7 separate regions of the Homo sapiens genome follow, and regions 1, 2, 4, 5, 6 and 7 are each linked to region 3. Evidence: fine-mapped QTL for protein levels in blood plasma. A gene starts in region 3. Each other region holds a variant in brackets. All regions are shown on one strand. Distances are from middle to middle.

Region 1 (3,436 bases), 29 kb after region 3:
CCGGTCTCTGTTGCCTGCAAAAAGAGGGCAACAGATGGCAAAAGTAACACACCATCCCTCTGGTGGGCTCGTGCTCCCCCAGCTCTGCCCCATCAGCGTAAGCAGCACAGCAGCGCAGGAGCACAGCATTCCTCTCCCGGAGCCTCGGCCCAGCCTGCTGGAGACCTCAGACACCCCCACAGTGGGAGGGAGGGCAGGAGGGGAGGCCCCAGCCCCAGCCTGCGAGTAGATGAATGGAGTAGAGGGGACTGGAGTTGGCTGAGGAGCCCGCGAGAGGAGGGCCTCCCGTCAGCATCAGGGCAGGTAACCCTGGACATGGCATCACAGTCAGCGTCCTGAAGCCATTACTAGCTATGCAGAGGAAAGGGCGACCCTGCCCACAGGCCGCAACAGGCGACTAGTGATAGAATATTGTGCATCCCAGTCCTGATCAGCAGAAGCAGCAAAGCAGTGGAATGTGGGTGGGAGGAGGCAGGTGAGGGAGCCCGGAGGCCCGGCCCCACCTCTGCTGATGGAGGCAGGCAGCGTGGAATGGGAGCTGCTGGTGGGCAGCAAGCAGGGCCACCAGGTGGCAGCAGGCAGGGGCTGCCCAGGGCGGGGAGTGAGCACGGACCCGGGAGAGTGGCTCCTTGGCTCTGCCCGTCGCACTGCGGCCTCTCCGCTCTGGTTCCCCTTTCTCCCAGGCTGGGAGGCGTGGGTAGGGCTTGGGGCCTGAATTGGCCTTCGGAGGCCCCCTGGGCCTTCCTACAGTTGCTGTGCCCCAGGCCTCCCCATCTCCAGGGTAGCAGGAGCTGGTGATGCTGATGCCCCCGCTGCCCGCCTCCTGCTCATCCTCCGAATCATATTCAATGCTGATTTCCAAGCACTTGGGGGAAAGGCAGCTGGCCAGGCCAGGCTCCAGCGCCCGGCCACGGGAGCACCTCCGGGAAGGGCCCAGCCGGCCTCTCCCGCTAGCCTCTAGTCCAGTCCTGGGGCCCTCAATTACGGGGAGGCCACCCCTCTCCCGTGTGGGGCCCAGTCGTCCAGAGGCCTGGGGCCCATTGTTGCTGAGAAGTCGGCTGCAGTGTTCTCGGGGATCTGGAGGCCGCCTGCGGCTTGGGGGCTTCTCAGGGGAGCCCCCTCCTCTCCTCCGGCTGCTTCCACCAACTAATCCAGGCATGTCTTCCAGGCAGTCTCCAGCCCTGGAGGACTCAGGAGACAAGGGACACTGGCCAGGTCTTCGGGGCTGACCACTGTCACAGCCCAGCCCCAGCAATGCAGGTTCAGGCGGGCCAGGGTCTCGGGAAGAACAGCCTGCCCCTGACTTCTCCTCCTCCTC[G/GTCCTCCTCT]TCCTCCTCTTCCTCTTCCTCCTCCTCCGGGATGCTAAAGAGCTTCTTGCTACAGAACTGCTGGAGGGGCAGCTCCAGGATCTGCTCCAAGATCTCCTCATCGCTGTCAGTCTCACAAAAGGGGTCGGGCTGGGACTGGTGGAGGTGGGGAGGTGGGAGTAGAACACAGCAGGGAAGAGAGATGCGTGGGGAAGAGGAGAGCGAGCTGCGATCTTTGCCCTCAAACGAAGGCAGGGGTTACGGACAACCCCACAGCCCTCCCACGGCTTCCTCCGAGAGGAGAGAACCAGAGGGACGGTGGCTGGCCCAAATTCACACACATATCCAGTGAGAGCCAAAGGAAGAATTAGGGAACACACTCTAGGAACCATCACCAGCCCCTGTGGGACAGGAGCATTGAGGAGCAGGCCTCCCCATCCCCTCCCCAGAAGCTACCAGCACAAGGATCTTAGGTGGCACCGGCCTCCCCTGGCCAGGGCGCTGTATCTGGTGGGCTGGAGGGAGAGAAGGTACAGAAATGAACTCCTCCCCTTCCCCTTTCTTTCCAGGAGGGCAGGGGCCAATCCTGGGGCACTTCCTATCTTCTGCTTAGGACAGGGCCCAGGCCACAGACCTAGAATGTTTCTGGCACTCAGTGGTGGTCAGAGCACCTGCTGACACACAGTGGGGAGGCCCCGGAGTTTGAGGCCTGGGGCCCAACAGCCCATCCCTACCCCGTTACCTTGGCCCCATTCTCCCTGATGCTGTTGCCAGCAACCTGCTTCTGGAAGGAGCAAGTCCTGGAACCCAGCTCCTCTTCCTCCTCCTCCTCCTCCTCTTCCTCTTCCTCCTGGATGTCTGACAGGTCTGAGTTGCGGCCGTGGTCCACGAGGGAGTTCACCAGATGAACCCCAAGCTCTGCTGTGTCCTCCTTCTGCAAGAAGTGAGGCAAGGCAGGAGAGATAAGGACAGTGAGGGGGCACAGGGGGTTCCAGGCAGGGTCAGCCCCAGCCACAGTAACAAGGGTCCTTTGGCAGAGGGAGAAAGAGCCATGTCCTAAATGGGGGAGGCACACCATGGCTCAGGGGCAGGGTGGGAGAAGGGAGATGGGAGCCACATGGGACAGAGAAATCCTAGAAGAAAAACAGACACATAGCACAGCCAAAGGTGTGAGAGCAGGACCAGAGCAGAGGACAGGCAGAGAGGGCAACTGGATTTGCGCTGGCAAAAGGTAGGGAGACAGGCCTCAATTCTCTGAAGTGACACAGTGTGTCCCCAAACCCCTACCTCAGCCCTGGGCCTCAGCCCAGACCCTGGGTCTCCTCCTTGGCACATCTCGGTATTTGGCGCCTGCTGGGCCCGTGCTCCCTGGGTGGAGCTGGAGGCCGGACAGGCCTCTCCTGCAGTCCACTCGGCCTCCTGCTTGGCCAGTGAGGGAGCTGCGGGGCCAGGGTCCTTCTCACCCAGGGTAGATGTGCTGGCTGTCCTCTCCTCTGAGGTGCCCAGCACTGCTGCCCCAGCCTCCTCCTGGAACAGAGAGCACTGAGGAAGGACCCAAGCCCAGGTCCCTCTGCCAGCCTGCACCTGCTCCCCTCTCCCCAGACAGGGTACCTGGGAGCAAGGTGCTGGAGGGTCCTCGTGGGACCCTTTTGCCATCTCTCTGGAAGGGCTTGCAGGGGGTGCTCCTGGAGGCTCTTGAGTTCCAAGGGGAGCAGGGTGCTGGAGAGGAGAGCTGGGGTCTCCAGGCCCTGGGGAGGCTGAAGCAAGGGGCGCTCTGGCCTCTGGGCTTGGGTGCGGTGAGGGGCAGGAGACTCGGGCTGGCAGGCTGGCCGGAGCCAGGGCGGGAGTGATAGGAGCCGGGATGGAGTCCGCCGACTCCCCGTGGGGCGACATGGTGCGCACGACCACCTCACGACACACCTGCAGCAGCTGCAGCTGGGACAACTCCACCAGTACACTGCCTGCCGTGGGTGAGGCCACCTCCATGATCTGCAGGGTGGAGGGGGCACAGGATGGGAAGCAGAGGCTGAGACAGCCAAGCGTGAGGATGCACTGACAGCAGTGGCAGCTAACTGACAGCAGTGGCAGCTAGCATTACGCCAGGTACTGTGCTAAGCCCTCTGCATGGCCTATCTCATT
Region 2 (4,351 bases), 770 kb after region 3:
GTGATCTTAGCTCACTGCAAGCTCCGCCTCCCGGGTTCACCCCATTCTCCTGCCTCAGCCTACCAAGTAGCTGGGACTACAGGCGCCTGCCACCACACCTGGCTAATTTCTTTTTTGTATTTTTAGTAGAGACGGGGTTTCACCGTGTTAGCCAGGATGGTCTGGATCTCCTGACCTCGTGATCCACCCGCCTCAGCCTCCCAGAGTGCTGGGATTACAGGCGTGAGCCACCGTGCCCAGCCGAAAAACAAATTTTTAAAAAAGTAACCCAGATTGGCCAGGTGCGGTGGCTCACGCCTGTAATCCCAACACTTTGGGAGGCCGAGGTGGACGGATCATGAGGTCAGGAGATCAAGACCAACCTGGCTAACACGGTGAAACCCCGTCTCTACTAAAAATACAAAAAATTAGCTGGGCGAGGTGGCGGGCGCCTGTAGTTCTAGCTGCTCGGGAGGCTGAGGCAGGAGAATGGCGTAATCCGGAAGGTGGAGCTTGCAGTGAGCTGAGATCATGCCACTGCACTCCAGCCTGGGCGACAGAGCGAGACTCCGTCTCAAAAAAAAAGGAAAAAAAAAAAAGTAACCCAGATTGAAGATAACTAAATCGATTTAACAATTAAATGCAACATGATCCTGACAAAGGACATTACTGGCAAATTTTTAGAAGGTTACAGTATTACATCAATGTTAATTTCCAGATTTTGATAACTATTCTATAGTTATGTAAGAATATCCTTGTTTTTAGAAAAGTACACAATGAGAAGTATATTCGATCTCAAGTGTTTCAGAAAAAATTATATACAGAGAAATATAAAGCAAAATATTCATAGGGAATGAATCTGTGTGAAGGAAACATGAAATTCTGAACTTTTCTTAAGTATAAAATAATTTCAAAATTCAAATTTAAAAGTTAAAACACAAACAAAAATTATTGGCTAAGAGCCCAGAGATTAGAGAGAGAAAACTGACTATTGATTCAATCTTTCAAAAAAGTGCTGAATATCCCTACATTTAAGTGTGAGTTAGTTAATATGCTTCTAATAATTACCACTTAAATGCTTTACAGTAGTAAAGTGGGAAACTCACATAGTTTCTTCATCAATATCATTTTCTTCTGTATTACTTGTTGCTGTGGAACTAGCAGAGGAACTGCTGCCATCGAGCTGATTTACTTCATCCTCATAAACAAGATCCAGATCCAGATCTCCATCTGAAAGCTCGTGCTAGATCAATGCCAAGAAAACAAGACGTCTATTCCAAATGTTTCTACTCAGTTGATCACCCCATCCAGCCCATAAACCAAGCACCAAAGAATAATACAGTTTTCAAAAATCTATTTTCTGCTCCTGTGCCTCAGCTGCTGAGCCCTGTAGAGAAAAATCACACAACCACACTGACTGATATCATTTTACTAACTTATGCGTGCCGCCTTCAGCTGGGCCCTCAGTGTGACTGGAATCCTTCACATATTCCACATCAGCTTCCTCACAGAGTAACGTTTCAAACCATCACTCCTCAATTCTACCTAATTTTACCATTATCAAGGTCATTAATTAACACTGTCACCTATCTGCACAGAAAAAAAATACCCACTATTAAGCAAAAACTTCCCCAACTTTTCAGCTGCCTTACCTGCAAACTCCACCCTTCCTTTAACTCAGTTTATCAAAGGTTAACTGCTTCACCTGACTGCTCCATTCCAAACCCTATTATCTCTAGTTTATCAAAGCACTTAATCTGTGCATT[C/G]TCTCGACCCACTGGGTCCTTCATTTTAACTTAAAACTGAAGTCTCTCATCTTAAAAATTACTACAAAAAAACCAACTGTCTATGCATCCCTTCTTATGTAAAAATATCAACTACTTCTTGAACTCTTATTCTGGATTCTGACTGTTGTTTAGCTGGGATAGAACCTGGCTAGCTACCGAATCCTAAATCAGTCTACCTACGTAAGTAATGATAAGGCATGTACTAGTTTCAGTGAATGAAAATAGAACACCTTTTTTTTTTCTTTTTCTTTGAGACAGAGTCTTGCTCTGTCTCCCAGGCTGGAGTGCAGTGGCACAATCTTGGCTCACTGCAACCTCCGCCTCCTAGGTTCAAGTGATTCTCCTACCTCAGCCTCCCAAGTAGCTGGGATTACAGGCAAGCACCACCACACCCAGCTAATTTTTGTATTTTTCGTAGAGACAGGGTTTGGCCATGTTGGCCAGGATAGTCTCGAACTCCTGACCTCATGTGATCCACCCACCTTGGCCTCCCAAAGTGCTGGGATTACAGGTGTGAGCCACCGCACCCGGCCAGAACACATTTTTAAAATCCACAATGTATGGTAGTTTAGGTTTTAAAATGTGTATCACGGTTTGTTTTATACAATGTATTGTTTTTTTCACAACCTTGAAATGCTTTGATTCAACAACTTCTGACTTATTAACATTTACATAAGGGCATACATACATTACTAATGGAAATCAATGGACAATATTTTTAGCCTACTGTTTTAGCACATAATATGTTAAAAGCCATGATGCTACTGTTTTTTTTTAATCAAACACAAAAATCTAAAACTGGCCTCATTATTACATGATAATCTTCATTCTGAATCTTCTCCTCATCTTCTTCATCCTCTTTGGCCTCTCTTACAGAAGCTGTAGTAGGACCACCTTCGAGAAGCATGTCAGAGCATGCAGACTTCTTAGCTCGTGTCTCCAGAGCATCATCATTTTGGGGGCTAAGATGGTTATCTGGTGGTGACAAATCTCTTGACTTCTGAGTTCGAGACAGCTCAATAGTAAGTCTCTTTTAAAACAAGAAAAGCACAAATATTAGCCACAGCTCACTGGCACAGTAAAAGATGTCTCAAGTGAAAAAAAAATGCATCCAGATGTTTCTAAAACCATTGCTTTATTTATTTTTTGAGAATGGTCTCACTCTGTTGCCCAGGCTGAAGTGCAGTGGTGCCATCATAGCTCACTGCAAGCCTTGAACTACTGGGCTCAAACGATCCTACTGCCTCAGCCTCTCAAGTGGCTGGGACTGGAGGTGTGTGCCACCATGCTTGGCTAATTTCATTTTTATTTATTTTTAGAGACGGTATCTTGCTATGTTGCTCAAGCTGGTTTTGAACCCCTGGGCTCAAATGTTCCTCTGGCCTCGGCCTCCCAACATGCTGGGATTACAGGAATGAGCCACCTCACTTGGCACCATTTCTTAAACCATTTCTCTGAATCCCTACTGCCTTTTATTTATAAAAAAAAATTGATGACAAAGATAAACTGCCCCATTTATGCTCATCCTCCTTCTTTCATATCCAGCCTAAGCTAAACATACAATTAGCAAACAGTATAGTGAATACAGGCAGTTTTAAATAGCACATTTAACATGAAAATCTCTGAAAGCATGTATTTATTCACATTTTCCTCCCTGACCTATTAACGACTCTCAGCACTCCAAACCTCCTGCCACACCCTAACTTCCTAAGGGAAATGAAACATTCCTTAGTTTACCACTGTAAAATAAAAATTCATCAATTAATCTTCCCCAGTGCTCATTCAACAATAGTAAGAGTTCAAGATGGGACAACTTTTAATTGTGCTATAGCCTAGAATCCTCTAAATCCAAGATAACTTGTGGAAGAGAAACTAAGTCACTGACAGAAACACAAACAGCTTACCTCAAACTACAGCCACACTGTTCAAAACAACTTTATGCAATGATGGAAATGCTCTAGATTTGCAGTAACCAATGCAAGCACTTGAAATGTGGCTACTGCAACTAAGGAACTAAATTTTTAATTTTAATTAAGCTAAATTTACAGACCAGGCACAGTGGCTCACACCTGTAATCCCAGCACTTTGGGAGGCCAAGGCAGGCAGACTGCTTGAGCCCAGGAGTTCAAGACCAGCTTGGGCAACATGGAGAAACCCATCTCCACAAAAACAAAAACTAGCCATGACACATGCTCGTAGTCCCAGCTACCTGGGAGGCTAAGGTGGGAAGATCACCCGAGCTTGGGAAGTTGAAGCTGCAGTTAGTGGAAATTGTGCCTGGCAACAAGAGTGAGTCCGACCTGTCTCCAAAATAAAAAAAAATAAAAATAAAGTGGCAGGGCGTGGTGGCTCATGCCTGTAATCCCAGCACTTTGGGAGGCCGAGGTGGGCAGATCACGAGGTCAGGACATCGAGACCATCCTGGCTAACACTGTGAAACCCTGTCTCTACTAAAAATACAAAAAAATTAGCCCGGTGTGGTGGCAGGCGCCTGTAGTCCCAGCTACTCAGGAGGCTGAGGCAGGAGAATGGCGTGAACCCAGGAGGCGGAGCTTGCAGTGAGCCGAGATTGCACCACTGCACTC
Region 3 (4,345 bases):
TCTCCCAACCTAACAAAGAGCCAGTGATTCCACCAACAGGACTCCTGTCAGCCAAGGAGGAACAACCCTCTCTCCCTTGGCCTGCCAGAGGCAGTGAGCAAATGGACGGCCCTGGCTGCCAGCTGGCTGAGCCCAGGCGCAGGAAGGAGACAGGTCATAGCTGAGCAGCCAGTGCTGTGGACACAAGGGAGGCAGGGCCAGCCTTCCTCAGCGTCTGGGAAAGGAAACCTGGGCACAGAAGGGAGATGGCCCCTTCCAGAAACAATCTCCCCTCTCCCAACCCAGGCAGTGGGCGGGAAGCAGGGCCACCTTGAGCGGGAAGCAGGGCGGCTGCTGAACGCAGCTGGTCTCGCAGTTGACGCCAGTGACGAAGGAGGCCCGGGCGGCCGGCTCAGGGGTGAAGTCGAGGTCGTGGTCCAACAGCTGGCCCCATTGCATGAACATGAGTGAGCGCTCCTGGTCCGGAGTCAGCTGATCAGTGGGGAAGCGCACGATCTCGTTGGAGACCGCGCGAGCCTGCGGGACACGGAGATCAGCTGGCGCCTGGGTCCGCGCACCGCGTGGCCGGGCCTCGCCCCCTCTGCCCGCCGGCGCTCACCAGAGCCACCGGGAAGCCGTTGCGCTTGACCCCGGGCGTCCAGCCGTAGGGAAGAGAGAAGCCGTCCTCATACTCCGCCGGCAGCCAGCGCACAAAGGCACGGTTGGAGGCCCCCAGCGTGGGGCTGCGTCTGCAGGGGAGGACAGGGCGCTGACACCGGGAGGCTTGTGGCGTCCGGGACGCCTCTCTGAGCCCGGTTCCTGCAGCCACCCCCAGCCAGCCGCACCTGTTGTTGCACATCCCGGTGATGGTGCGGTATTTGTCCTGCTCCGGGCAAGTCACCCCCACGTCCTGGTAGGCGCAGCCGCTTGACTTGGACAACACATTCAGCTGGGCGGGCGTCAGCACATCTGCCGGGGGAAAGAACAATGGGGGAGCTGAGCCGCCTCACTTCCTATCCCAGGCAACCTGAGGCTGAGGAGCCCTGGAGACTCCTGAGACTCCCTGGAGGAAGAAGTTGAGGGGATCACTGAGAGACGGCTGGGGTCCCTAGGAGGAGTCACTAGTGGAGCAGGGACCTGGGGTGTGATGGGCAACAGTACCAGTGACATTGAATGGCCTTCGCCACAGGGACCGCAGCTTCCTCTCCAGCAGGTCTAGAGCCACGTGCAGGTAGTCAGCGGCCCTCACCGCCGTCCTGGTGGCTGCCACCGGCTGCTTGAAGTAGGATAGGAGTTCCATGGGGCTGGCTGAGCCGCTGCGAAGCCGCTGCTTGATGCTGCTTGGAGAAAGGAGGAGTGAGGGCCAGAGAAGGGATACAGACCCACCCAGCAGAGCCCCAGCCCAGGGGCAGACATGCAGGACCATGCAGGCAGGCCCACGGGTGGGAGGAAGGCTTCCTTTTATAAAAAGGATATGGACCTGGGTGTCCAGACAGAGGCAAGGCTTTGGGAAGGATGGCTTTTAAGCTGTTCTCCCATCCAGAAACACAGGGACAGACAGACAGAAAGGGAGTCCACATGGGTCCCCATAGTCCCCCTCTCCCACCTTCAAGCTCCCTGCTGCCTGCTGCTTCTCTGAAAGGCCTGGGACATCCTTGCCCAGAGCTGGGCAGTGCCTCGTGCCCCACCTTTCCCGCCGCTCCTTGTAGGCCTTGTCCACCAGCTGCTTGGCCTCCTCCATGGAGCTCAGCACCAACGAGGTGTCCACCTCCCCCAGGACAGCTGCCCAGAGCAGGGATCACAAAGTCAGGAATGGGCCCCAACCCCCTATCAGGCCCCAGAGCTAGGAAGGCCTGCTCTGAGAAAAGGGGTCTCTGGAACACAACCACCCCAACACACCATCTTCTCCCACCTTGGGAACTGTTACCTGGAGCAGCACCTTCAGAGGGCTGGGGCGTGGCCAGAATGGCCAGGAGCCCTGCTAGGGCCAGAAGCAGCTTCATCTCTGCAGTGAGACCCCCAGCCCAGCAAGGTCCTAAGTCCACCATGCATCTGAGAGAAGAGAAGAAGGGAACCCCCATCTCTCTTCTCCTGGGCTGCTCAATCCCCCTTTGTACCTCAGCCCCACCTCAGAGGGCCCTGTCTATGGATAAAGCCAGACCTCCTTGAGGGAGGGGCTCACTGCTCTCTTATCCCCTTGCCAGCTGCTGTCATCCAGCTTCCAAGGACCCCACCTCCACAGCTCACCTGATATTGTCAGCTCCTCTTAGCTCAATCTGCGCTTTTATGTCCTCTAAGCTGGGGGTGGGGTGAGGTAGAGGAAGGTCTGATCCTGGAGACTGAACTCTTTCTCCTCCCCCACTGGGGTTGGAAGGTACACACAGAGGGGCCCCTGAAATGGGGGGAAGGGGCAGGAAAGGAGGGGCCAGCATTGTCCCCAGCCTTTTTTTTTTTTTTTTTTGAGACGTTATCTTGCTCTGTTGCCCAGGCTGATGTGCAATGGTTCAAGCGATTCTTCTGCCTCAGCCTCCCGAGTAGCTGGGATTACAGGTGCCCGCCACCACGCCCTAGCCTCTAGCCACATCATCAATTATTTCCTTAGGCAAGAAGTAATTTTTGTATTTTTCCTTAGGCAAGAAGCTAATTTTTGTATTTTTAGTAGATACAGGGTTTCACCATGTTGGCCAGGCTGGTCTTGAACTCCTGACCTCAAGTGATCCACCCGCCTCAGCCTCCCAAAGTGCTGGGATTACAGGCATGAGCCACTGGCCCCAGCCTGTCCCCAGCCTTTGAATTTAGCACTACCAGCCCAAGATTTCTCAGCTCACCATTGTGTGCCTATACCAGTGCTTGTCCCCAGGGGATACACACAACTAACCCCTCTGAAATTCTGGTTACACTGGTTATCCAGGGTTCCTTTGAAAGGAACAAAAGTCAGGAACTGGTAGCCCAAGGAATTGCAGGGAATAGAGTGCCCCCAGGGAAGACAGGAGGATGAAAGGGAGACCTGGAGTAAAGATGACCCAATTGGCCTCAGGTGGCCATCCCCCACTCCAACAGTAACCTGCATCCAACAGCCACCCAATGGGCAGCCTCTGGTTCTTGGTGGGGCTAAGGGGACAGGAAATCTGGCTGGAGACCGTTGGGCTTCACAGGAAGGAGGACCCTGGGGACTGTGGGCGCAGGACCAAGATAACTTCCTCTATCCCTCCTCACTCCCCTTTCTTCTTGGCTTCTGGTAGAGGGCTGTCTCCAAACTCCTCCTCCCCACCACCATCTGCTCCTGGATTTCAGGAACCAGGAGAGAGCAGAACTGGTTGTGGTTAGTGATCAGTTAGGTGATGCAGCCCAGGGCCTCTCTGGGACAGGATCAGTGCAGTTGGGAGGACTTGGGTTAATGATTCAGAATAATTCTGAAACAGAAGAGGATATTTCTTGCTTGAGAAAGCCCAGCAAAAGGGCCACCAATCTCAGCAGGAAAAGTACTACGACTTTTGACTGAATCAGTCTACCTCTCTGGGCCCTGGTCAGGCTGAGCTCGTGCCAACCATGCCTCCCATGTCCCATTTAGGTTCCCCCTCCTACCTTCAGCCACCTTCCCGCCACCCACTCTTTTTTTTTTTTTTTTTTTTTGAGACAGGGTCTCTCACTGTTGGCGGAGCTGGAGTACAGTGGTGCAATCTCGGCTCACTGCAACCTCTGCCTCCTGGGTTCAAGCAATTCTCCTGCCTCAGCCTCCCAAGTAGCTGGGATTACAGGCGCCCGCCACCATGCCCGGCTAATATTTTGTATTTTTAGTAGAGATGGGGTTTCAACATGTTGGCCAGGCTGGTCTCAAACTCCTGACCTCCTCCTGATCCACCCACTGTTGGGATTACAGGCGTGAGCCACCGCGCCCGGCCCACTCTTGTCTTCTATGCCCAGACCACCTCTTGGCCAAGGGACAAGGGACAGCAACACCCAGAATATCTTCCCAGTGTGTCCAGGGATTCTGTCCCCTGCTGAGAAGGGGAACCAAGCTTTTGCCCTGCCAGTGACTTGCTGTGTGTGAAGTTGGTCGAGTGGCTCTTTGTGAATCAAGCTCTAGAATTTTAGAGGCTTTTGGAAATGATTTTTCAATCCTTTAAGTAATATAATTTTCACTGATGAAAAGTTTGAGAACACGAGTATGCAAAAATAAAAATAAATCAAAATTACTCATCATCAAGTGAGATTGTGGGTACTTTTTTCTTTCAAGGTTTATCATTGTCTTCACATAAATAAACAATAGGAAGGAAAATAATTGCCCATAATCCCACCACTCACCAATACCTCATTTAAGAATTTGATATCCTATATGTAAACATAATATATATTTTTAAATATT
Region 4 (4,000 bases), 120 kb after region 3:
CCCAACATTTGGTGATATCAACTGTCCTGGGAGAAACCCCAAACTCCCAAGAGTCAAACATTGGTTTAAAAAAGGAGTTTTTTTGGGGTGGGGGGGTAGGTTGTTGTTTCGAGTTTATTAGTAGTGTTTGATGTTTCCAAACACCAGTTTTAAAAGGGAAGATGGGTTGGGGGACCTCTTCCAGTAAGCGTGTACCTCAAGAACCAAACATACATGAATTAAGTCCAGATAAGGCAATTCAACTCATTTGTATCTTACTGAGGCACATCCAACCAAGGAAGAATAGAGACTTAGTTATATTAGGCTCTCTCCCAGCTCTGAGATGAGTATATTCTTTGGGGGACTTGCTAATGTTGCAAGTTTGCATTCAAAATAAATTCTAGGCACTCACATAATCCCCCAGTCTCCTCCAAACTTTCTTTGATGTCCAACAACTAAGGACAAGGATCTTTGATTATAAAACAATTTCTTTGGTTGGAAGAAAATTCTTTGCAGGGCGTGAACAGCAGGAGAAAGAAAAGGTTTTTCTGAAGTGCAAACTAGTTGGAAACCCCCTGGGGAAAGAATCTGATTCCCAGTCTTTGAGAGGAACAGGCCTGCCTGTACAAGTTGCCTCTGCTGAAGGCCTCTAAGAAGGCGCTTTTGTGTCTACTGTATGGCCCTCAGCAACAGCACGGCGG[C/T]CCTTCTCTTTTTTTTTGCCAGCGGAAGTTTTCCAACTCTGGGAATACACAATGCAGAAAGTCACGGTTTAATAACAAGGCATAGTTACTAATCAGATGGCCCCATTTCCACTCTTCCCAGTTGCCTCCAGATGCTTACATACTAGAGCTCTATCCCCCTCACCCCATGGGTGAACACCCACCAGCTGCTCTGAAATCTTATTTTTAGTATAAGTATTCAGCTTATCTCTAATAATTCACTTCACAGAGTACTTAGGATCAGAAGCATCCTACTCCTTTTACTTTCATCCAGACTGGTTCTAGGTTGTCTCTGGCTCTTTCAGGTTTTTCCAAAGGTTAGATTCACTTAGGTGCAGGTTAGTGATTGAAGTCAGTGTGCTCTGATCATTGGGACAACCTTGACGAAGCATTTACAATAAGGGTCCTCAATCTACTACAGATATTTTAAAATATGAAACTCCAGAGAAAGGCTCCTTTTTTGAGTGTGTTAACTGGAATGCAAAGACAGTACAGGACCAGAAGACTGGGAGTACAACTGAGTCTCATGCTTAGTTCTGCTACCTATTTATTGTAAGACATTAATTTAGTCAGATTTTTTTCTATCACCTACCAAACAAATTTTGTCTTTGATGTCCAACAACTAAGGACAAAGAAAAAGAACTAAATAGGCAAGATACATGTCCCTTTAATATATGAAATCTATTTCTAGAATAAGCATAAACTCTAAAAGTTTAGAGCTGGAAAGGATCTTAAAGATTATTTAGTTCTCCCCCAACTCTACACCAACAGATGAAAGATTAAGTGACTTGCTTTTACTTAAAATGATCATAAGGTGCCTAGGGACTTTTCATATACCCCAAGGGGGCAACTCAGTAATCCCAAATACTCACCAATGATAATTTTTAAATGTTTAATGTATGTCATAGAGTTTACTAACTTTAGAGTAAAATAACCTAATGTCACAGTGGATCGGTACATTCTTCTTAAATGGTTCTCTATATGCCTCATATCATACTAAAATCAACACATTTTAGGGAACAGGAATAACACACATTTATGACTAAAGTCAATAATAAGAAAATGGTACTAGAAACAATTTTTGCTAAATAGATATGATATTCAAATACTCTTCACCTTCTACATAAAAGGTCTTAGTATTTATTTCTTCCCTTATGGAATGCAGTTTGCGAAGAATTAAAATCAAGCTAGTTGAGATAAATTCAAACAAAACTTCCAATATGTTGAATTCTGTTTAAAGCTAAATTTACTGTTTTAACTAAAATTTAACAGGGACTGATTGGTACATTTTAGAAAGTCAGTTTACAATCTGAAAAAAAAAAGCCATGGTATCTAGTCATTCTAGACTCCTAAAGAAAATGCTAAAGATGAGTATTAAACACACAGGAATATAACAACCTGTAATTAACTGATAACAGTAAAAATTTAGAAGGTATGACTGGGTTGTAGTACTTCTTTTTTTTTTTTTTTTTTTTTTTTTTTGAGACAGAGTCTTGCTCTGTCGCCCAGGCTGGAGTGCAGTGGCACCATCTCGGCTCACTGCAAGCTCCACCTCCCGGGTTCATGCCATTCTCCTGCCTCAGCCTCCCGAGTAGCTGGGACTACAGGTGCATGCCGCCATGCCCAGTTAATTTTTTGTATTTTTAGTAGAGACGGGGTTTCACCATGTTAGCCAGGATGGTCTCGATCTCCTGACCTCGTGATCCACCTGCCTCGGCCTCCCAAAGTGCTGGGATTACAGGCGTGAGCCACCGCACCCGGACTGTAGTACTTCTTTCTCTAACTTTAAGCTACTTGAAGTTGCCTGGGTTAAAATTTAATATTTTTTCATTTGTTTTTTCTTTAATCATAGGGAATCTGAGACAGAATTACCACAGTCATTTGAATGACTCTTGAAAAAATGAAAATCAGCACTTTAGGCCAGGAATGGTAGCTCATGCCTGTAATCCCAGAGCTTTGGGAGGCAGAAGTGGGAGGATGGCTTGAGCCCAGGAGTTCAAGGTTATAGTAAGCTCTGATGGTGCCACTGCACTCCAGCCTGGGTGACAGAGAGAGGTGACAGAGAGAGAGACCCTGTCTCTAATGACAGAAAGAAAGAAAGAAAGAAAGAAAGAAAGAAAGAAAGAAAGAAAGAAAGAAAGAAAGAAAGAAAAAGAGAAAATAAATAAATCAGCACTCTAATGCATTTATGCCTACACCTACATCTGGCATTCAATACATAATGCCTCCTGCTGTTTAAGTTGATTCTCCTCAGTTGGACAAGGCTAAGGTGTTGTGTTGCTCTTTGAATTACTATAGTATCTGTCACAGAATTTGGTACAAATAGGAAAACCACATTATAAGGCATCTAGAGAATCCAGTGCCCCTTCTAGTCTTGGTAAGATTCTTAGCCTAGACTTTATAAAGAGGTGATATTGCTCTGAGAAGATCCAGGACTACAGACCACCTGATGTGCAGTGATTCTGTGGCAGAATAAATGACACATGCACCACGTAAAGTATTGCTAAACTGTGGTGAGGTATTTTTGGTCTGTTCACTTATTTTAAAGTATGCCTGTAGTTGACTAGGGATCAAAGAGGAAAGAGACCCTGCGGCAGTCTATATCTTCTTAATGGAATGTTCAGGGGGAAATCTCTGCTGACATGTGCTTTTTAATTTCCCTGCAGTGACCCCAAAAGGTTTATAATAAATAAATAAACTATGCTAAAAATATTGGCCAGTAAGATATAGCAGCAGATTGGAATTCTTTGATAAGCACTAATCTGAGTTCAATTCTTCATATATAAAATGAGAAGACTGGACTGATTGTTTTTTCTAGCTTGAAATTTGATGATTATATTTCACAAATGGAATATTCTGCCACTTTTCCCTCCCCTCCATCAAAACTGTATTTTACTCTAAGAATGGAAAACTGAATAGGACTTAATTCCAATATAGAGCCAATACAGTCCTTCAGAAGTTAAAGAAACTTGACCACAAGAATTTTAAAGTCAGATCATCAATATAATTCCAGGTAGAAGATATTAAAATGAGGGAACACAAAGCCTAGATCATATAAAAGATGTTTTTTGTTGTTTTAAAGTAGATAATACAAAAGACTGTAGAAAATGGTTTGGGGGAAAAAACGAATGGAAATCTATACTTTTTTTTTTTTTTAAAATAGCAAAATAAGTAGACTTATAAGGCCTTTAGTCTCATCTGAATTATTCTACAGAAGTAAAATACCAACAGTGTTTCTCAAATGTCATATATTTATATATGTATAACAATACCTTTTTGATATACTAGCACGCACAAAAGTG
Region 5 (4,351 bases), 990 kb after region 3:
GGGAGGCTGAGGCGGGTGGATCACAAAGTCAGGAGTTCAACACCAGCCTAGCCAACATGGTGAAACCCCGTCTCTACTAAAAATACAAAAATTAGCCGGGCACAGTGGCAGACACCTGTAATCTCAGTTACTCGGGAGGCTGAGGCAAGAGAGTCGCTTGAACCCCAGAGGTGGAGGTTGCAGTGAGTCGAGATGGCTGCACTCTAGCCTGGGCGACAGAGCAAGACTCTGTCTCAAAAAAGAAAAGAAAAGAAAAACAATTTAGTCAGTACTCTTGTGCTCAACTTCTATTTCATGCCTGTTTTCCAATTTCAGTATCTTAGTGATAAACATGTTTATTTTATTTATTCCTAAATTATATTTATGAACATCTTTGTAGCTGTTTCTCAGACAAAACAATAGAAAACGCTTCTTGTCTACCCCCCCCCCCAAAAAACACCCTATTTTATTTGCTAGATTAAAATGATCCCTAAACATTTATTCCTGGCTGGGCCAGGGGCTCCTGCCTGTAATCTCAGCACTTTGGGAGGCAGAGGCAGGCGGATCACCTGAGGTCGGGAGTTCCATACCAGCCTGGCCAACATGGTGAAACTCCCATCTCTACTAAAAATACAAAATTAGCTGGGCATGGTGGCGCACATCTGTAATCCCAGCTACTCAGGAGGCTGAGGCAGGAGAATCGCTTGAACCCAGAAGGTGGGGGTTGCAGTGAGCCGAGATAGCGCCATTGCACTCCAGCCTGGGTGACAGAGCAAGACTCTGCCAATAAATAAATAAATAAAACATTTATTCCTAAAGTACTTAGCTTTCCTCTGGCCTGGAGTGGACTGTTTGCTCTATATTTATCTTCATATGTTCCTTTTAGAAGCAAATATTGTTGAAATACAGACATAAGAACAAACTCCACAGAATTAATATTTTCTCTAAAAAGTGATTATGGATTAAGACACAAGCAGGATATATTTTGTGTGTTTTAATACTTCTATAGAAGACAATGGATATTTTCTAAGACAATATAGTGATTGTTTAATGAGGTAATCAGTATTTGAGCTACTAAATCCCTAATATTCCTGAAATTGCAACCAGGACTTTCCACTGGGGCCAGAGTTAGGGAAAAAAGGACTTGTACTTTATTTTGTACTTTTTTTTTTTTTTGAGACAGAGTTTTACTTTGTCACCCAGGCTGGAGTGCAGTGGCGCAGTCTTGGCTCACTGCAACCTCTGCCTCCTGGGTTCAAGCAGTTCTCCTGTCTCCGGCTCCTGAGTAGCTGTGATTACAGGTGTGCGCCACCATGCCCGGCTAATTTTTATGTTTTTAGTAGAGACGGGGGGGGGTTTCACTATGTTGGCCAGGCTGGTCTGGAACTTCTGAACTCAGGTGATGCACCAGCCTCAGCCTCCCAAAGTGCTGGGATTACAGACATGAGCCACCATGCCTGGCCTACAGATATTTTAAAGGAAAGGAAAACACGTGGTAAACTGCTCACTTTGATCTATAATACAGTTCCGTTGTATGTTTAAATTTGCCACATACTAAATTGTAGGAGACAAAGCAGGAGAAAGATTTCACCAAAAAAGAAACGAGATATGAGCCTAGGGCACCAGGGTCTCTGGAAAGACAATATTTATTTATTTATGTATGCATTTATTTATTTATTTATTTATTTATTACTTTTGAATAGGGATGGCAAAAAGTTAGCTTGAGACCAGTGCAAACAGAACCCAACTGGCCTTTATTTTATTTTTGTCCTTTTTACAAATATTTTTTGAGAATATACAAAGTACAAGGCACTGTTTTCATTTTTGAATTTGTTTCATTTTATCACACTGATATATTTCTGTGTTTCTAATTTGTAATTCAAACTTTATTTTACCCTAGGCTAAAAGAACCACACACCATGTCCAGAAGTCAAAAGTTTCTCATCTGGCTTTCTGATCTGTAAGAATTTTAATTTCTTAATATGCAAGTTATTGCTTCAGCTATATTTATTAAATACTACCCTTAAAATGTTGTGCAAGCTTTCCACATGTAATTTGTAACAAGGACAAATTGAGCACCTGCTATGTAAAATGTGTATGAATCATTTAGAAATATCTTAATTACTAATCACAAAATCTTAGGAAGAATCTTGAGAGATAATGTCCTCCAACTTCATGAGAAAACTGAGCCCCCATATACCCAGTTAAATTATTTACTTGGGGTTATCTAGCTAGTTAGTAGCAGAACTAGGTTAAATAACCATTCCCTTTAGCTTACTTGCTGGTGAAAAGAAGTGTAGCAACACAGTATATATAAAAGTGTATGTTGCCTACAGCACATTTCTCAGAAAAATTTGCTCTGCACCAAGACTTAACAGCAGAAAGGAAATCCCACCTATAGAGTGGATATCAACTTTAAAGTAAATGCCTTAATTTAGACATGATGAGTTTAATTTTAGTAAAAATCACTAAATAATTGTACTATATTTTGCTTTAAGATGGAACCTTGAATGCTTAAATATTTTAATAGTCCCAAATCACAACTTTTTATTATTTAACGCCTTTTCTTCTTATTTTATTTTATTTTATTTTATTTTATTTTATTTATTTATTTATTCATTTTTTGAGATGGAGTCTTTCTCTGTC[G/T]CCCAGGCTGGAGTGCAGTGGTGTGATCTCGGCTCACCGCTTCCTGGGTTCAAGTGATTCTTCTGCCTCAGCCTCCCGAGTAGCTGGAACTATAGGTGCCTCCCACCATGCCTGGTTAGTTTTTGTATTTTTTAGTAGAGATGAGGTTTCATCATGTTGGCCAGGCTGATCTCGAACTCCTGGCCTCATGTGATCTGCCCACCTCAGCCTCCCAAAGTGCTGGGATTACAGGTGTGAGCCACCGCGCCCAGCCTTAACGCCTTTTTCAAAGAGTCTTAAACAATTAGTTTTATCTTTTCTCTCTGTCAGTGTTTATTCTTTTTTGCTTTATTCTTGATTTAAGCTCTAGTTTTCAAGGATGCCTTTTTTTTGTACTCAAGTAAAACCAGGATGCATTTTTTTTCTTTTTTCAACCCTATTAACTGACAAGATGCATTGTTAATTGGTGTTAAAAGCACATGATTTCTAGTTTCTGTTATTTAATCATTCTAATAGACATAACAGAATAGAAATAATGTCTTTCCAGTGCAATGAATTCCTATCTTGCTCAAGAGGTTTGTATTTTGAAAGTTCACTTATCAGTGAGTTACTTGGAACAAAAAAATATTTTTTCCCTAGACATAGGATAGTGTAATTAATGGACATAATGCTTCTAACATCGCTTACAAAAGACTAATCCATTGTGTAATGAACTATGATGTTATAGAAATTGACCTGCATTTGTTGACTTATTTTAACTTGGAAAGTTAGGAACACACATTAATAGTAAGAAAGGAAAGCCAGCTCTTTCTCCTTCTTCAGCAGTGAAAATGAGGCAGCCTCTTTTCCATTGAGCTGTGCCAACAAGAATGGGTCTCCTATGAATCTGGTAGCAGCAAGAAGTAGAAAGGAGGTTCTGGTTGTCCACCAACCAGCAGCCTGCAGTGAAAGGAGATCCAGCAATTAAGACATAAATTAATTCACAACAGCTATTATTACTTGAGACCATTTCTTTTATTGCTGAAGCATTGGGATTAAATTAAACTGGAATTACTAAACTCTAAATTGACTAAATTAGGACTAAGGACTAAATTCCTAAATCAGTTTTGCTTTTTCTTTTCTAGCTTACTAATGAGGAAAGCTTTGTTTGACCACCTAACTGCTCGAGGCATTCAAGTAAGTTTCTGGAATGATGCATTTTGGAAGCAGCATAGCTCACCAGTTTAACACAAATATAAAGGGCAAGAACTTTTAACTGACTTAGTTTGGCCCTTGACTCTGATGCTGCTGCTTTACTGATCCACAAATGAGGACCTTAAGCTCTTCCTTACACTTAGCAATAAAGCATTGGCATTTCTGGATCTAGATTCCTCTTATGTACAGAATAGCTGATGCCAGAGGGGTGGGACAGTGTTTGTGTGTGTGTATATATATATAAATATATGTATGTATATTTCTTTTTTTACTTTTTTCTTTTTTTTTTTTGAGATGGAGTCTCACTCTGTCACCCAGGCTGGAGTGCAGTGGTGCAGTCTTGACTCACTGCAACCTCCACCTCCCAGGTTCAAGCAATTCTCATGCCTCAGCCTCCTAAGTAGCTGGGATTATAGGCATGCACCACCATACCTGGCTAATTTTTGTATTTTTAGTAGAGACTGGGTTTTGCCATGTTGGCCAGGCTGATCTCGAACTCCGGACCTCAGGTGATCTGCCTGCCTTGGCCTCCCAAAGTGCTGGAATTACAGGC
Region 6 (4,351 bases), 1.3 Mb after region 3:
CACCTGAGGTCAGGAGTTCAAGACCAGCCTACCCAACATGGTGAAACCCCTGTCTCTACTAAAAATACAAAAATAAGCCAGGCATGGTGGCTGGTGCCTGTAATCCCAGCTCCTCGGGAGGCTGAGGCAGGAGAATTGCCTGAACCCAGGAGGCGGAGGTTGTGGTGGGCCGAGATCACACCATTGCAGTCTGGCCTGGGCGACAAGAGCAAGACTCCGTCTCAAAAAAAAAAAATTGTTCTTGCTTTGTAAATGCTGCTTTCTTTTCTTCATTTTGGAGCGGGGAGCCTTGCCGATAGTCAGTGACTTGTACATTTGTTTACTGGCATTTGATAGGCTGCTCCTTATCTTGCATGAAAAAATAAAGACCTAGCCAGTCTAATCCTGCTGGGATTCATATCAGTGGCCCCAGGGGGTTGAGATGCTTCAAAGCTACTGTTTAAATGGCAAAACCAAGTATCTTACTTGGATAATACTAAAGTATGTCCTTTATGGCTTTATTGGAATCTGAATTGTAAACATTTGGTACAGTGGATTAAAGTTCTGCTTTAAAATTAATTTCTGAGTATGTGAGATATGCCTTTTCTTTGTGACTTTTGCAGTGCAGTGAATTCAGGCTGTTTTTAAAAGGTCAAGTTTTTAAAAGGCAGGGGCATTAGTGCTAGGGCTGCTTGAAGATGAACAGCTAATGGAGAAATCCTACAGTGAAAGGGGTTGTTTTTTTTTTTGTTTTTTGTTTGTGTTTTGAGGTGTCATTCTATTGAGTGTTTATATATATATATATATATATATATATATATATGTATATATCTCCATCCTAATTGTTGGCATAACATTAAAATTAGTGACACAACACAGGTTTCTTGTATAGGTTTTCAGAAACTAGCAGTCCTCAAAATAACAGACCAAGCAATGTAGTTTTTGCTAATGGCACTTGCTGTGACTCATGATAGTCTACTGTTGATGAGCATTCCAACTAAAATAGCTTTCACTTCACCATTGATTAACATGGCTACCTTGCTAAAACATTTTCTGAAACCAAAAGCTAGAGTGATCATTCATAGCATTGTCTTATTAAAAGACTATGTCATACTGTATCGTAGAAAAAGCCATTCTGGGTAGTAGGATTTGCTTCCTGGTCTATTAGGTTATCTGTTCTCCCTTCTAACTTGAGGTAATGTCTGAAAACAGTGCCATTCAGGTATTGCTTAGGTAACTAAACCAGTGAAACCAGTGAAACTGCCTTTATACTGTTACCAAGAACAGCAGACTCCCATTAAAAAAAAAAAAAAACTCTTATTACCCTACTCAAATTATTCATCTTTAAAAAGGCATAGGGTTTTTTTTTAATGTTTATCATCTTGACTTTTTTTTTCTCTTGAAAATTTTTGGATTAATTTGAAGATCATTTCAAAATGACCCAGGATATCACGATCTATTTTTCCTCTTCCTAAATTATTTCTCAAAACAGTGTAATTTCTATGTGTGATGACGTAGCAGTCACTAACAACCTCAGCGCACTTTTTGGTTAGATATTCCACTCCAAATAGCTAAAATCAACTGCTTTTGGGATTCTAAATGTACTTAAAGTTACAGGGTCTGTATGAAAATGCCAGACACTAATTAAATTTTGGTGGCCCATTCATGATACGGCTCTTTTATCTCCGGATTCTGAGATTGAAAAGGTGACTTGATCAAGCTATTGAATTACTGTAATAAAACAATTACTCCCTTAGAATTTTAATTTAGAATTTGTCTACTTCCAAAAAGGGTTTAAAGCAGTTATTACTAGACTGGCATTAGGTTATTTCAAATGTTGCGGAACAGAGGATCTTCGTGTATTTAGCTTAACAATACAAAAAGAAATTTTGCAAGCATAAATATTCACTCTTACAACATGGTGGCAAGGCTTTTCTTTGCAGAACAATCTTTGCCCTCTTACCTGCCAGACTCTTCTCTCATGCTCAGTATGTGAGACAGTTAAGTAAAGGGAAAAACACTAAAAGCAACTAAAATGATTGGCAAACTTCTCACTGTAACCTAAACTGCTTAGCATACAAAACTATCGTCTACCCAATAGGGTTTTATGTCCTTTAACTGAAAAGGACACTAAAAATAATTATTGTGGACTTGAGCTTTTCTCTTTCGGCGGGGCGGGGGGTGGGGGGGGAGAATCACCTCTCTTACAAAGATAAAAGGCACAGAACTAACGTCTTTCATCCTTTATTGTATT[G/A]GTGCGATTATGAAATATTATTATGGCTTATACTTTAGCAAGAAAGTACCAGAAAGGTTATTATTAATCGACAATGAATGCCGTTGATACCTTCATGCTCTTTGAAGACAGGATGCTCCGGCTTTGAAGCGCTACATTTCTACATTGCTAACCTACAGGAACCTATGTTGAGGTGGTCCCACCGAAATACACGGCTAATAGTTCATCTCTTTCCTCCAGGAACCTTCAGGTTTTTTTTTGTTTGTTTTTTTTTTGAGACGGAGTCTCGCTCTGTCGCCCAGGTTGGAGTGCAGTGGCGCGATGGAACCTTCGGGTTTTACTAAGCATCCTTACCCTAATTATCTAAATCTTTGAGACGTAAATTATTTGATGTGGCTAAAAATCCTCCTGCTAGAATTTAGGTCCAATCCTTTAATGTTCGGATACTCAAATTCTTTAACGAAACTGATCACTGAGCTAGGCCGACACAAGTCCGCCAAAATGTCCGCAGAAACGTTAAGAAAAGCTGTCATAAGGCCAGCTTGAAAGACATCATAAAAGGCCTTCGCTGTCCTTTGAGTTAATTATCTAACACCCGAAGAGAGTGCCAGTTCTAGTTAGAATCCGCGCGTCAGGTTCTCCAACAGTCAGAAGGGCTTGTGTGAGGGCAGGGAAGATTTTAAACCCCGTTTCAGGCCCCCTCCCTAGGCTGTAGGAAACCACCCACTCTGAAGCCCGGCGGGGGAGGAGTGCTGCAGCCAGCTGCCGAGGGAGCGCTCTGCGGCGAGGCCGTTTCCCTGAGTCACGGAGAGGGCGGGAGGCTGCGCCCGTCTGCCCCCGCCACGTCCTCCTGTGAGGGGCTCAGTCGAAACAGGCAGCGGTCGCAGGGAAACGAAGCGGCACCCGTCATGCCTCAAGGTGGCCCAAAAGCCTCTTCACTCCCAGGAGACGCCGCATTTCCTTAAAACGAGCTCTCCATTTCTGGCAGCAATCAGCCGACCCTTCCCCATCAGTATCACGTGCACCTGGAAGTACGTGGGTGGGACCTAAAGCGCCCACGGAAGTGACGTCGGTCGCCCCGAGTCGCATGATGTGGCAAAATGAAAAAAAAAAAGTGGGGGGAGAAAGAGAAGACTGGCGAAAGTGATGAGTCTAAAAAAGTAGTCCCTCCGGTTCCTCTGTTTCCCCCCATGTGGCGTCAGGAAGCGAGGCACCGGGCGCACTGCGCCCCGAATTCCTGCGCCCGCCGCGCGCGGCGCTCCGTGGAGGGGTACATAAGGCGGAGGGGGTGAGGCGACTGGGCGGAGTTCTGTCGCCGGGATCCTTCCGCTGGGCTCAGCCGTTTCCGGAGTCTGCGCTGCGCCCGGTTCCGCCATTGCGGCTCTCCTGGCCCCTGGAGCCTCCGCCCCCGACCCGAGCTCTTTCGTCTGCCTGCCAGTTTCCTGCGTCCCCGGAGAGGATCCTGCTGAGCCCAGCCTCCCCCCTCCCCTTCTCCTCCTCTCCCTTGGAGAGCCCGGGCAGCCACTGCCCCGCAGCCCCAGTGACAGGAGGAGACCATAACCCCCGACAGCGCCATGGCCCAGATTCTGCCAATTCGTTTTCAGGAGCATCTCCAGGTGCGGCCGGGCCCGGGCTGGTGAGGGCTGTGGAGAAGGTGGTAGGAAGGATGGAAGACGCTGGAGTCTGGGCCCGAGCAGTATCGGAGCTGGAGGGGCGGGGGGGTTGTCGGTGATTGGGGTAGGTGGAGGAGGGGGCACTATCTTGGAAAGCTTAAAATATTAAATGATGTGGGGCTTGGATGGAAAGGACAGGAGTTGGGGTGCAAAGAGCTGCAAGGACCAGGCCTGGATCCAAAGGCCTCTCGATCTTGCTTCCTGGATGGCCAGAACTGCGCGTACAAACTCTCTCCCCATTTTATTCATTTCATTCATTTGGGTAGGGGAGTGGGAGGGGGATTCTCCCTTGTTTCTACCAGAGCAAGGATTCTTATCCCCTGGGCCAGTGCGGGGCTGTCACCTTCCATTGCTCTCCTCTTTCCCTCATCGTGTCTGCACCCAGGAGTTGTGGGGCGGGTGGGTTGGGGAGGAGCAACCTTTTTTTTCCCTCCCTCTGCGGCTCTCAACTGAGAAAGGCACCTTC
Region 7 (4,325 bases), 9.8 kb before region 3:
GGGCCTCCAGATCCCCCAACTGGTGGGGTGGGAGTGGGAGACACCCAGTCATCCTGTGGGAAGAGCCCAGGAGCCAGATGACCTCGGCTGCAGCCTGGCACTGCCACCCACTTCTTTAAGGCCTCAGACGAGTCGCTTCACCCCTCTGAGCAGCCCTCTCCTCATCACAGAAATGAGGACAAGCAGTATTTTTGCTGCTTCTTACCATGGTGAGGTCCTAACGTTACCAGGGGCCCCATGAGTACATTAGACCCCACCGTCCTACACCACTTCCAGCCCCCTCCCCATATTTGAGAAGGAAGAGGAGAGGGAGGGAGTCCACCAGTCAGACGCAGGGTTCAAGCTCCAGGCAAGACTACTAGGGAAATACACTCCTTCCCCTCCCTCAGTGCTGGCCCTGTCCTCTGGGCCCAGCCATCTGCTCTCCCTTCTCCAGGAGCCATGTGCAACATGAATGAGAAGGAGTCCACTGTCTTGAGGGCCTCTGAACCCCTGTGCCAGGCTGCTGGGATGCAGGATGCAGAGGCCCCTCTTGTTGGGGAAGGGCCTGCCTCCTCACCAGGTCTCTGTACTTTCTCTCCTACCACACAGCATTTTGTCCCCTCCACTTCCTAGCCCCTGGCACAGGCCTGACACAGAGTGAACACATAGCAAACGTTTGCTAGAGCAATGAACAAACATGAGGGCTTGGTGACCACAGTTCCCTGCAGGGTGGCAGGGGTGGAAGGTGAGGGAGGAGGGTCTGCACCGCATGCCCCGGCCCCCAGGCTTCCAAGAGATGGCTGCCCTCCACGTACGGATCTCAAAGGAAAACTCCCCAACATCCTCACCCTCGGTTCAGAAACACAGGGCCCTGAGCACAGACCACACTGGTTCAAGCTCAGAGCCCAGAGTAAGCCTCTGCAAAAGCGCCAGTTCCTCCTCAGACACAGACAGAGTGGAGGTCCCCATCAGCGGTGCCTTTATTATCATAAACATTGGGAGCAAATAAATGGTACAGAAAGGGCAACAGGCCCAGTTCCTCTTCAGGAGAACTTCAGTGAATAAGCAAGAAATCAGGGTGAGGAAGAAAAAGGGGAGCCATGGCCTGAGCCTGGCTGGCTGGGCCCATAAGTCAACCACACAGCCCAGCTGCAGCTGGCTTATCCCTCCAAGGCACCACTGGTCCAGCTCTGCTAACCAGGACACAGATGGCATCTTGGTATCTCTTTCTTGCCTCTATATGCTTCTCACGCCTAGTACAGTGCCTTGCATGTAGTAGGTGCTCAATAAATGAAGAACCAGAGGATACAAGTGGGCCCTCCAAGAAACCATGACAGATGTAATTTACAAGGAAGAAAACTCTTGTTTAAGGAGGGTAATTTGCTCAAGGTCACATAGCTAGCAAGCCACAGAGCCAGGATTGGAACCCAGGCAGTCTAGTTCCTGAGCTGTGCTCCTCACCAGTCCGCTCTGCTGCCTTCCACATACTCAGTATTCTCATCAGCACAAACACACACTCACATAAATGGCACATACACATAACCCATGAAACACTCCCCATGTTCAGACAACACACACGCATGAAAAGCCAATTTATATACTTCGCACATACATGAGCACACAAATGAACGTCTAGTCACTCATTTTCTCAGCTGCACCCAGAACAGGGCTGGGCTCATCTAGGGCAAGGAGATCTCCGTGGTTCCAACTGGCCAGCCCAGATATACCCCTCACTGCTGCACCCCCTTACCTGGCCTCTAGGAGGCTTCCCTCCAGGAAGCCAGGTTCAATGCAGGAAGTGTACTGCAGTTGACAAAGTCCCGGGGATATGAGTTGGACATGAAGATGTTGTTCTTAGACACGGTGGTGATGCCTGTGTTGTCGCAGATGATCCGGGGCAATGAGATCTGGGCCAGGGCCTGTCGCTGCTGCATGCTGAACACACCCTCGTTCTCCCACCAAAACC[T/G]GCATGGGGAACACCCATGGACACTGTGCCCAAGGATATTCTGGGCTGGCAGGGCATCGATGGGCTTGTGCTGCTCCCAGGATATAACAAAGCCACAACAAATGCCACCTGGAAGCACAGGAGGGCCCCAGGCCCTTGGGCAGCCCAGGGGCTTTCACACAAGTGATGCTCCACTCATCGTGCAGAGTAAAGCACAGCTGCCCAGTGGCCTTTCCCTTACCCCTAGCCCGGCGGCCTCCAGGGCACCATGCTGGAGGGGGACCCGGGCCCACACACACTCCTGAAGCCCTGTGCCCTGGCCAGGAGCTGCATCCACAGGAGTGGAAGAGAATCTTGGGGGTGGTTTATAATTCGCCCACCCAGAGAGGGGCACCTTTTTCTAATTTTCCCAAAGGTGCAGTACAGGCTAAGCAAGAACTAGACATGAAGACATCAGGACCACGAGGAAATGACACTAAGGGGAGCTGTGGGAAAGCTGGGAGGGGACTGCCCACTGGTGACTGACACCCACATGGTGGCACAGTGAAACCCATGGGAAGAAGTAGCTAAGGGTGGCACTTTTCTATCTTCCACCCTTTACAACCAGGGGTCCAGGTCTTTCCTTGCTGCACCCCCAACAGGTTCAGGGCACATTAGGGGCACTCCAGGGCATCTGGAGGATTCCTGGAACACACTGGAAAATTACTGACTCCCTCCAGTCCTTCAACTGACAGGAGGAAATTTGGGCTCCAAGAGAGTCAAGGATGGGCCCACAGCCACCCAGCGGCCCACGACGCCTGCCCCTCCTCACCGATCACCATCCCGGAGCTTCCTGAACTGGGTACCGATGATGCAGGCGAGGAGTGGGCCCACGCGGCCTTTGCGCTTCAGAGGCTCGGACACGCCGCCCATCCAGATGTCGATGTTGTTGGGCGTGCCATACTGCTCCATCAGTTTCCTCGCCAATTTCAGGTTCCTCAGCACCGTGCCCAGCTGGCCCACAGTTTCAGGCTGCGGGAGCCCACAGAAGCGCCTCCAGGCATTGTATCCTGCATGGGGGAGGGGACAGGTGGCTATGGGCAGGTCTCTCTGCTTCAAGGTGGGGAGGTCACTGGAGACAGCAGGGAAGATTCACATATCGCCAGCAGCCCAGAAAACCCACCTTCCCAACACAACCAAGGTCATAGAGGGAGGGAAGGACCTCACCTCAAGGAACCCTGTACCTTTGGCTTAGACCAAGGGGCACAACTGGGCCTCTCTGGGACCCTCTCTGTCTTTCTCTTGCCCTCCTACCATAAGGCAAACCCTAAACTGCCACAGTTCCTGCTGGGTCCAAGAATAGGGACATCTCCTTGTCCCCCTCCAGAGCAGCCCGATGTGTCTGTCTCTGACCCATGAGAGGTGAAATGTGTCTAGAAGCCTCAGCCACATGGGCTACCCCATAACATAGGCACAGGCTTTGAGGTTAGGCTAATCTGGCTTCAAATTTCAGCTTTGCCACTGACTTGGCTAGAGAACCTGGCCAGGTTCTGAATCTCATCAAGCCTCAGTTTCCTCATCAGTAAAATGAAGGCAATAATAATCTCTTCCCCCAGAGTTAACGTACAATGAAGCAAAATGGAATGATGACAGAGACAGATTTTCAGACTGTGGGTTATCATTATGATGACGATGCCCCTAATATGAGAATTACAGCATGCAAAGGAGGTTGAGAGGAGCTGGAAATTTATCAGGTGGGTCCGGGAAAAGGCAGGGGCCTGGCCTCAGGCTACTTCCTGAGAGCAAAGTGCCTCTAATATGCTTTGGAGAGGGCAGGGACCCTAGAGTGGGAAGGGGGGTGATGGGCTACCTAGGAGGCAGCTCAGGGGAGGTGAGCATCAGGGGAGACTCCTGCAGCCCCTCACCTGGGAGGCCGTGGTCCCTGCTGCGCTGCATGTTCAGAGCAGGCAGGTCCAGCCCAATCCTCATGACCTGCTCAAACAATCGCTCCCGGATCTCATCCACTGCAATTTGGTTCTGACGATTCAGCTTGGCAGGGGTGGCCATGAGGCCCCGGAGGATGGGGTCAATGCCACCTGGGGACCAGAGGAGCCAGGTCAGGGGAAGTATCTGGCTCAGTATCAGAGCTCAGATTGGAGTCAGGGACAAGTCCAGGTAGGGTCAGGAGGATTCGAGAAGAGGGCTGGGCACAAGCAGTGCCTGGTGCCAAGGTGGTGGCCCCAGTGAGCAGGTCCTCACCGGTCACTACATGACCCCAGGGACATATAGGTCTCAGGAGATTATGCCATTCAGACTTGCAAGATTGGGATGCTCCCAGGCCCTGGCTTCCTGGGTCACAGCGAGCCACAACACATAGGAAGTAGCCAGTTCCCTCTGAGGGCCATCCCCACCCCACTGT

Direction of the effects. Positions count from the first base shown, and alleles are read on the strand shown. Strength reflects both the effect of a copy and how common the allele is. Not every link is listed here.
For the plasma level of the protein whose gene starts at base 2,237 in region 3, allele C in region 2 goes with a higher level than allele G (moderate association).
For the plasma level of the protein whose gene starts at base 2,237 in region 3, C is the high allele of the variant in region 4 and T is the other (moderate association).
For the plasma level of the protein whose gene starts at base 2,237 in region 3, T is the low allele of the variant in region 5 and G is the other (moderate association).
For the plasma level of the protein whose gene starts at base 2,237 in region 3, A is the low allele of the variant in region 6 and G is the other (moderate association).

Evidence for each region. PIP is the posterior inclusion probability: the model's chance that the variant is causal. The UK Biobank Pharma Proteomics Project read protein levels with antibody pairs (Olink). The fine-mapping took linkage between variants from a reference panel, not from the people measured, so its PIPs are less certain.
Region 1: its variant is fine-mapped to the plasma level of the MPO protein (UK Biobank, PIP above 0.99).
Region 2: its variant is fine-mapped to the plasma level of the MPO protein (UK Biobank, PIP above 0.99).
Region 4: its variant is fine-mapped to the plasma level of the MPO protein (UK Biobank, PIP above 0.99).
Region 5: its variant is fine-mapped to the plasma level of the MPO protein (UK Biobank, PIP above 0.99).
Region 6: its variant is fine-mapped to the plasma level of the MPO protein (UK Biobank, PIP above 0.99).
Region 7: its variant is fine-mapped to the plasma level of the MPO protein (UK Biobank, PIP above 0.99).

Annotation. Positions count from the first base shown.
Region 1 is chr17:58,307,928-58,311,363 of GRCh38, forward strand. TSPOAP1 (TSPO associated protein 1) reads right to left here. Exons shown (of 32, transcript NM_004758.4): 19 at 2,909-3,286; 20 at 2,585-2,824; 21 at 2,040-2,231; 22 at 614-1,453; 23 at 1-14. Among named protein-coding and RNA genes, the nearest start is that of TSPOAP1-AS1, 16 kb to the right of the region's middle. RefSeq lists an enhancer at 1,608-2,307. The variant G/GTCCTCCTCT (reference allele first, on the strand shown) is at 1,319.
Region 2 is chr17:59,046,598-59,050,948 of GRCh38, forward strand. TRIM37 (tripartite motif containing 37) reads right to left here. Exons shown (of 24, transcript NM_015294.6): 15 at 2,581-2,796; 16 at 1,086-1,222. Among named protein-coding and RNA genes, the nearest start is that of TRIM37, 58 kb to the right of the region's middle. The variant C/G (reference allele first, on the strand shown) is at 1,746.
Region 3 is chr17:58,278,699-58,283,043 of GRCh38, forward strand. It overlaps MPO (myeloperoxidase), which reads right to left and starts at 2,237. Exons shown (of 12, transcript NM_000250.2): 1 at 1,907-2,237; 2 at 1,668-1,761; 3 at 1,141-1,316; 4 at 825-948; 5 at 599-728; 6 at 310-516. The coding sequence starts at 2,060. RefSeq lists enhancers at 1-585, 3,170-3,187 and promoters at 2,227-2,821, 2,227-2,367, 2,760-3,161, 3,046-3,271, 3,317-3,517.
Region 4 is chr17:58,402,916-58,406,915 of GRCh38, forward strand. The region is part of intron 2 of RNF43 (ring finger protein 43); the gene reads right to left. Among named protein-coding and RNA genes, the nearest start is that of RNF43, 13 kb to the right of the region's middle. The variant C/T (reference allele first, on the strand shown) is at 681.
Region 5 is chr17:59,269,057-59,273,407 of GRCh38, forward strand. GDPD1 (glycerophosphodiester phosphodiesterase domain containing 1) reads left to right here. Exons shown (of 10, transcript NM_182569.4): 8 at 1,880-1,939; 9 at 3,729-3,780. Among named protein-coding and RNA genes, the nearest start is that of GDPD1, 51 kb to the left of the region's middle. The variant G/T (reference allele first, on the strand shown) is at 2,626.
Region 6 is chr17:59,616,346-59,620,696 of GRCh38, forward strand. CLTC (clathrin heavy chain) reads left to right here and starts at 3,550. Exons shown (of 32, transcript NM_004859.4): 1 at 3,550-3,828. The coding sequence starts at 3,787. RefSeq lists enhancers at 1,984-2,796, 2,634-2,683, 2,694-2,813, 3,264-3,613, 3,343-3,637. The variant G/A (reference allele first, on the strand shown) is at 2,234.
Region 7 is chr17:58,268,917-58,273,241 of GRCh38, forward strand. It overlaps MPO (myeloperoxidase), which reads right to left. Exons shown (of 12, transcript NM_000250.2): 10 at 3,832-4,002; 11 at 2,739-2,976; 12 at 939-1,947. The coding sequence ends at 1,740. Among named protein-coding and RNA genes, the nearest start is that of MPO, 9.9 kb to the right of the region's middle. RefSeq lists enhancers at 3,339-4,325, 3,818-4,325, 3,945-4,325, 4,148-4,183. The variant T/G (reference allele first, on the strand shown) is at 1,949.